Homo sapiens: one gene and its partner. The gene in region 2 interacts genetically with the main gene of each other region. Each region holds a gene or a part of one and is shown on either strand. Other genes may lie near its edges.

Evidence for each region.
Region 1: changes in OPHN1 (region 2) and FLT3 together harm fitness less than expected from each alone (positive genetic interaction), as found in Homo sapiens cells (one study listed by BioGRID).

The regions. Positions count from the first base shown.
Region 1 is NC_000013.11:28,048,267-28,052,076, forward strand, and holds part of FLT3 (receptor-type tyrosine-protein kinase FLT3 precursor), read right to left. Parts: intron 1,957-3,810; coding exon 1,829-1,956; intron 1,509-1,828; coding exon 1,369-1,508; intron 1,272-1,368; coding exon 1,118-1,271; intron 178-1,117; coding exon 9-177; intron 1-8. UniProt on the Homo sapiens protein: Tyrosine-protein kinase that acts as a cell-surface receptor for the cytokine FLT3LG and regulates differentiation, proliferation and survival of hematopoietic progenitor cells and of dendritic cells.
Region 2 is NC_000023.11:68,430,524-68,435,090, forward strand, and holds the start of OPHN1 (oligophrenin-1), read right to left. Parts: upstream 2,973-4,567; 5' UTR 2,645-2,972; intron 2,502-2,644; 5' UTR 2,498-2,501; coding exon 2,344-2,497; intron 1-2,343. UniProt on the Homo sapiens protein: Stimulates GTP hydrolysis of members of the Rho family. Its action on RHOA activity and signaling is implicated in growth and stabilization of dendritic spines, and therefore in synaptic function.

The DNA of each region.
Region 1 (3,810 bases), on a different chromosome or scaffold from region 2:
GGTCTCACCTGTATCCGTTATCAAGACCCTTTTGCTCACAAGGAAATGATTTTCGAGAGAAGGTCCACGTACATCTGATTTGTGGGTAGGCTTTAAACCTGACAGAAAAACAAAACTCTTCATATTGGTCAATTTCATAATCTTCACTTGAATTGGTAGCATTTATAAATCCCTTTTCTGTAAGAAAAAATAGGCATTTATGAGTTAGTTAATAATATTCATAGGGAAACGTATTGAGAAGATAAAATAAACTTGTATTCATCAGTTTAACACAGGAAAACTCAAGTGTTGGCATGCTGCAGGTCAGGTTGGATAATCCAAGTGAAAACCCAGGAGTCCTATCCCTAGTTCTAAGCCTGAGCTCATCATCTTTCGAAGTTAAGAAATGTTTAAAAAAAGAAAGAAGGAAAGAAAAAGAATGGGATGTAGATAATTGACTGTCTGGCCCCTGCTCTCAGCCAGCACCACTCTTCCATTGATGAGAGAGAGTAAAATAAACTCAAGGCACAAATAAAAGAGCGATCTGGCTAGCAATATTCACGAGGTTGCCTTATGGAACACTTCCTTATTAATCTGCTAAGAGCATCGCTGTATTTCTCGGCATTTTCATTATGGCTGAACGCTGTGCCCTAATCTGAGATTATTGAACTGTGGTTATTTTCAGATCCTACATACCCCACCAAAATTTCAGTGCATCTAAGGGCTTGTACTGTCTCTCAGTGCTCACTGCCCTAACAGTGCGGTTAGTTGGTTCTTAGAACTAGTATTTATTGTCCATTTTGTGTCAGGCTCTGTGTCAGGTTCTGGAACTACAAGGATAGAATGAGTTGTTCTTGTCCTTAAGAAACTTACAGTCTACTGGAGGATAAAAGTACACAAACAGATGGTCATATTACAATGTGTTATATGCAAAGACAGTGGCATTCAAGCGAGCCTGGTTTAACGGGAAAAGGAAGAGGGTGGGCAGATTATCTTTGCAAAGCTATTCTAACTCAGTTTCTTTCTTAGTGTTTGATAGTAGCATTATATTGAAATCAGAATTTGTACCACATACTTCACATTCCACACTACAGCGACTAAAAATAGGAATAAAGATTGTGTGAGCAGCCTGCATTACCTACGATGGTAACCAAAGCTGATTGACTGGGATGCTTTGAAGAGGAACAAGTGTAGTATCCGGTGTCGTTTCTTGCCACTGATGATACAAAAGCAAACAGAATCCGTATCATAGTTCTGTTTGTTGAATAGGTACTCATCTCAAAGTAGTTGCCCTAGGTTTTAATAAAACAGAGTTTGCATTTAATGTTTTCAATCCAGACTATTAGTTAATTGTTCCTGCATTTTCAGAATACAAACTTGTCCTATTACCTCCTCGAGTGCTTTGTTTTCTAATTCCCAGGTGAGCCCGAATCCATGGTTCACATGAACAGCTTTGCACCTTATCCATAAGGGTTCCCCTACTTTAAGAAATAATTGTGGCAATGTGGTCTGAGGAGTTTGATTTAGATCTAGGAGATGAAAACATCCCAAGTGAGAAAAAAAAAGTGATTTTTGCCTCATCACAAAAGATATCCTGAACATTCTGAACAAAGACTTTAGCATCATCTCAAATATTACTAACCACATTAATAAAAGAAGCTTTTAGAGACTGACTCCTCTTTTATGAAGAAATCAGCATTTACAGAATCCATAATATTGCATTTACTGTGACCTGAAGGAATGATAGGATTTCTGAAGTTGAATGATCACCTACGCAGTTACTGTTAGTCCCTGATAGTTGCTAAGAACCGGTCACTGAAAATGAAAGTGCATGATATTATAGTGTTACCTATTGTGAACAGCCTGGTGCATTCCCTGCCCAGTTCATTTCTGGCACAGCACCTTATGTCCGTCCCAAATAATTCATGAAGCACTTTTTCCTCCTTTTTAACAACAGCTGGACTTTCTTCTTTACAGCTGCAATTAGAAAAGAAGTACCATTTGGCTAAACAAGTTTTAAAATTACAAATGAATGCTCAAGAGGAGAACAAAGTTCTAGAGCCAGTTTTAAGGGTCAAATGGTAAACAAAAGGTCAAAAGGTAAACAAGCCCATATCTATGGTTTCAGCTAAGAGCTCAGAGGGGAGCTAGCTAGTTACTCATTATCGCAATGAATTAGCATAACACTAAGGAGAATTACATAACAAAACAGTTTAAAATTGTTCATGTTTGGTGATCTCTTTGTTGCTGTTGTTTAAAGACAGGGAAAGAAAGGGAAAAAAATGAGAAAGAAGATAAAGGAAAAAAAGAGAAGAAAGAGAGAAGAGAAAAAGCATGATTGGGCTTTCATGAAGTTTAGCAAGGTAAGCATCCTTTTGGGACGCAGTAAGGGAGGGGGAAGCTAAAGTTTCAAAAGTCACCCGAGTTCCCATAGGAACAGAGGAGGGCCAAGGTGTCACCCACAAGGGAAGTCAGCCAAGACTCCCAAGTATTCAACAGAGCAAAACCCCTCTCCCTGCCTCAGCAGAAAGCGAACTTTTGTACCACTTTGGAACAAAGTATTTGGTACTTTTTCTCCTTCTATTTGGTCCTATTTTAAAAAAAAAAAAGTTGTTTAGTAAATTTTAATTAGTTCAAACTGCATGAATTTTTACTTTGTAAGAACTTAACTTTGGCATATATGAAAAACTATGTAAACATTTATACCTTACTTAGTATTGGCTAGGCACTGTTCTATGTGCTTTACATATATCAATTCATTTAATCAGAATAGCAATCCTATAAGTATCTGTTGTCATCCGCATTCTTCTGATGAGGCACAGAGAGTAAGTAACTTGTCCAAGGCCACACAGCTGCTAAGCAAACCAGGGTTCAAACCCAGGCTATCTGGCTCTGGATTCTATATCTTTAAACAATCATATTAGACTGCTTTCCCAGAACAAACAGGATAATCAGAAATTAAACATTTTGTCACAAGGAATTTCTTTCTTCCTTTCTTTTCTTTTTTTTTAGATGGAGTCTCACTCTGTCACCCAGGCTGGAGTGCAATGGCGCGATCTCGGGTCACTGCAATCTCCGCCTCCCGGGTTCAAGCAATTCTCCTTCCTCAGCCTCCTGAGTAGCTGGGATTACAGATGCCCACCACCACACCTGGCTAATTTTTGTATTTTTAGTAGAGACGGGGTTTGACCATGTTGGTCAGGCTGGTCTCGAACCCCCAACCTCAGGTGATCTGCCTGCCTCGGCCTCCCAAATTGCTGGGATTACAGGTGTGAGCCACTGTGCCCAGCCTATAATTTCCCTTTTTTTTTTTTTTTGAGATGGAGTCTCGCTCTGTCACCCAGGCTGGAGTGCAGTGGCGCGATCTCGGCTTACTGCAAGCTCTGCCTCCCAGGTTCACGCCATTCTCCTGCCTCAGCCTCCTGAGTAGCTGGGACTACAGGTGCCCGCCACCACGCCCGGCTAATTTTTTTTGTATTTTTAGTAGAGATGGGGTTTCACCATGTTAGCCAGGATGATCTCGATCTCCTGACCTCGTGATCCGCCGGTCTTGGCCTCCCAAAGTGCTGGGATTACAGACGTGAGCCACTGTGCCCAGCCTAGAATTTCTTACTTATAAGATAATTCTACTTTAAAATCAGTATCTTTCTTTTTGCCCCAACCAGATGCCCAGGGAGCCAACAATCCTGGAACGTAGAGGGACTTTTACTTGTGTAGCATGATGCCCAGGAAGGGCCCTGCAGTTGATTTGAGGGGTTCCAAAAAGCCCCTTACCAAAAAAATCCTTGTCCTCCCTGTGAAGCCCACATTGGCCATTCTGTATTACTTATT
Region 2 (4,567 bases):
TAGAAAAGAAGGAAAGAGGCCAGGCGTGGTGGCTCATCCCTGCAATCCCAGCACTTTGAGAGGCCAAGGTGGGTGGATTACCTGAGGTCAGGAGTTCAAGACCAGCCTGGCTAACGTGGTGAAACCCCATCTCTACCAAAAAATACAAAAATTAGCCAGGCGCAGTGGCACATGCCTATAGTCCTAGGTACTGGGGAGGATGAGGCAGGAGGATCGCTTGAAACCAGGAGATCCAGGCTGCAGTGAGCTGAGATCATGCCACTGCACTCCAGCCTGGGCGACAAAGCAAGACTTCATCTCAAAAACAAAAATTGAAAAAAAAAGAAAGAAAAGGAAAGAATAAAAACCTTTACTTGCCCCTAGCTTATGAAACTTTTGCTCTTCCACCATGTTTTATTGAACTACTTTTTTTCTTATAAATCTTAATCTCTCTGATATGCCTTAGCTGGTGATTTTTAGCATGCTTTTAGTTACCATCCACTTCACAAAGCCATTCTGTTCCTAGGGCTTATGATGAGATTCGTTTTACTGGGGACACAGCACCAAGCAGTTTACTGTAATATATAAACAAAACAAAACAAAGCTGAAACATTCCTCCTTTTCCTTTCCGTGAACTCTCACCTTTCTACTTATGTAGCACAACCTGCATATCCTTAACCTCTTAAGGATCAGCATTTCAGATACTACTAGGAGTTTACTCTTGGTCAGGCCACAATAAGACAAATCATTAAAAGATCAAACACAATCAAATGACCTGCAGGAACTTCGACAGTGTACATATTCTGACCAAAAGTGGGCAGAGAGCATGTGAAGGAAAAGCACCGACTCCACAGGGCAAATCAGAAGGGCTGCACAAGAAATACCAGCTGGCAGCAGTTACCAACACACTACCACTTTCTTTTCTTTTTTTGAGATGGAGTTTCACTCTTGTTGCCCAGGCTGTAGTGCAATGGCACGGTCTCGGCTCACTGCAACCAACATCTCCTGGGTTCAAGTGATTCTCCTGCCTCAGCCTCCTGAGTAGCTGGAATTACAGGTGCCTGCCACCATGCCCAGCTAATTTTTTTTTTTTTTTTGTATTTTTAGTAGAGACAGGGTTTCACCATGTTAGCCAGGCTGGTCTCGAACTCCTGATCTCAGGTGATTCACCCGCCTTGGCCTCCCAAAGTGCTGGGATTACAGGCGTGAGCCACCTCGCCCAGCCTCGCACTACCACTTTCAAATCTTTCTTTCTCCCTGCTCTTGGTTGACTGCATCCGCCTAAGAAGGTTGCCACACTGGTCCTAGACCCTGTATTTGGTGATAAATTCACTCAAAACAAAGTTATAACCATATAGGACATACTTGCCAATGACTCTGAGTTTATTTTTCACAATCATCTTTCAGCCAAGAGAAAAAATTAATTATCACTCCACCCAATCATTACCCTCCATTCTTCTGTGTATATGCTTTGGCATAAAGGGTTGGCTTGCCTGCACTCTCGTTGGGGATGTTTATTATTCTTTCTTTTACTCCAAGCCTCCTACCAACAAGCAGAAAAAAAACCTCCACACACAATGGGGGAAGGAGAGAGCTTCCCACAGCTGAGTCAGCTGTGAGCACTGGAAAAGCGAAGCTAGGTGAAGTTCCTTCAGCCCAGCAGCCCCCAACCCTATCCCTATTTTACTCCCTGGGGGCTGGGCCCCTTGTGGCAGGGACTAAGTAGTCAGCTCTTTGTTCCACACTCAAGCAGAATTCAGTGGCAGGTGAAGCCATCCAATAATCCTGAACTTAGACTGACCTTGACCTAAACCATAGCTCAGTGTGATAAAGAAAATAATTCACTGGGGCAAAGGTGCTTTCCTTAAAAAATAACTTGCCATGGCGAATTTTTTACTGCCCCCCACACTTATCTGTAGCAACCAGAGACCAGGACAAAATTATTATTCAAGCTGCTGACCTTAATCCCCAATTGTTTAGGAGGTGCTGGGGCAGTTCCTTGGTCAGCTTGGATGTCACTTTGCCCCAGACAGGGGTGCTGAATATGTCTAACAGTACAGCAGATTGTCCCTTAAGAACAATCATCTGCCAAGTAAGGGTAATTGCTGAGCAAGAGGGTCCCTGGCACAGCTACGGATCACGTCTTATAAGGTCAAAACCACTAAAGGAAAAGGCCCAAAGTTCTGGTTGTATCCACCACTTTCCACTTCTACTATCTCCACTCCCCAAGTGTGGGAAACCCATTTGCCTCAGAGATCTGGGCTGGGAGTCACCCTGCAATCTCCCTTCCCCTGGTGGTGTGGAAAGGCTTAAAGGCCAGACACACCAGCTCAGAGAAACAGCTCATCGAAGCCTTGCACTTACTTCTCATAGCGCTGATAAGCGCGTTGCCGTCTTTGATTACGTCTTTGATGAATTTGTTGGTCCTCTCCAGTTCCTGCTCATAACACTTGAGCCTCTCGCGGAAATCGGGGCTGTCCAGGTAGCAGTCGCTGAACTCCAGCGGGGGATGACCCATGGTTCTGATGGCCGGGAGTAGGGGGAAAGGGGAAAGACACAAAGACCGAGAGCATCAATGGCACAGTAGAGGAAGTAGAGGGGACGGACTGAGCGCGCGACCCGCTTAAGGAAGCTCATAGCCTCCGTCCCTTTGGAGGACAGGTACCTGTTTCAGTGAGACTCCTGAGGAGCGCTGGCTGGTCCGGACAGAGAACAGGCGCCCCGGCGATGGCTTCAGGGCCAGGGAGAGCTAACTATCGCAGTCGGATCCCGGCAGGGTGCTGCCTAGCAAGCAGCATGTCCCTTAGGCATCGCCTTCCCAGATAAGCAGCAAAAACCGCAGCCCGACTTGCCTCCGGAGACGGGCCGGATCCTTCCTGAGCAATTGCAAACGTGACACTTGGGCCCGCCCAAGGTGTAGGCGAGGTTAGAGCTGGAGCTGGGAACAGCCTCTCTACAGGCTCCTCGCTCCGGAGCGAGCGGAAGACTTCCTTGGCCGAACTCCGCGGGCAACCCGGATTGCACTGTCCCCTCCCCTTTCTTAAAGCCAACGCCTGCGCCCCGCCCCAGCGAAGCCCGAGGACCAAACCGGAGCGCTCTGGCTCCTTCCTCAACTGTTTTCCTTGTACCTTAGAGTTTCCTGACCAGGGCCCGCTGGCTGCTAAGACTTCTTCCTGGTGCAAGGGAGCCGGCCGGCCGGCCGTCCTTTTAGGCGCCGGAAGGGTTAAGCCAGGGCGGCAATGAAACGTAGCCTCGCTCCATAGACACTGCAGCGGGAAGAGGAGGGCGAGAGCGCGACGCACAATAGCCGCGGTAGCCCAGCGCTTCCCTACGGAAACTGGGGAGCAGTCAGCGCCCTAGGACTCCAGCTGGAAAGCGTGGCGGCCTGGGAGATGTAGTCTTTCCGTTTGCACTCCCCAAGACTCCTCCCTGCAGTCTCCCCACCACCCCGCCTGGGAGGCTGCTCTCCCAGAACGGCATTCCCAGCCTGCCGCAGGCTCCTGCGCAGGGACCGGCCCCAAGGGGCAGGTGCGCGGCGCTGGACTCTGCGGGGGAAGTTTCCGAAACTAGAGCAAGAACCCGCAAGACTAGATTGCAGGAAGCCATCTCTCAATTCCCATGATTCGGCTGGGTTGTGTATTCTTTTGCCTTCCCCTCTTTCCAGCCTCCTTCGGACCTACCAACTTCTTTTCCTCTTTCTTTTCCCATGTCTCCTGCTCTAAGTGCTCTAATTCCCTTGGGCCTTCGACCTGAAGGGTTGATTCCTACTCTAGGGTCTCCGTGAAGCTCAGTGCCCCCTGCCAAAGAAAGGGAGGCCATAATTCAGAGTTAATATTTTCCTGAATAGGACCTCAGAGCATGGCTTTTGTGGCAGACGCCGATAATGCATATGATTTTCCATGTGTAAGTGGAAAGTCTAAGAATAGGATGTTATAAATTGTCTTGCAGCTTACCTTAAAGGCAGCTGTCTTGAGACTAAGGGTAGGTAGAGGCTCGAAAAACTAAAAAATAGTTTGTGCGTGGGCAAAGAGATCCCTTTAATTCTGCAGAAGTGTTTACATTAGATTGCCCTGTGAAGAAAGCCAGAACGGAAGGGGGTTGTAAATAGAATAATAGTGGCTGACCCACCTGAATTAGGGTCCTGTTGCTGCTGTGACAAATTACCACAAACTTGATGTCCTAAATCAGCATAAAGTTATAATCTACAGTTCCAGAAGGCAGAAATCAGAAATGGGCCTCACTGGGATCAAATCAAGATGTTAGAAGGGTTGTGTTCATTTTCAGATAGTCTAGGGGTAGAATCTGGTTCCTTACCTTTTCCGGCTCAAGCTGCTCACATCCTTTGGCTCATAGCTCCCTTCCTCCGTCTTTAAAGCTAGCACTGGCCAGTCAAGTCTTTCTCATGCTACATCACTGTGATTCTCATGCCTCCCCTTAAGGACCCTTATGATTACACTGGGTCCACAGGATAATCTCCCCCATCACATCATCCTTAATCACATCTGCAAATTTCATTTTGCCACATAAGATAACGTAGCCACAGGTTTCAGGACATGGACATCTGTGAAGGAGGAAACATTATTCTACC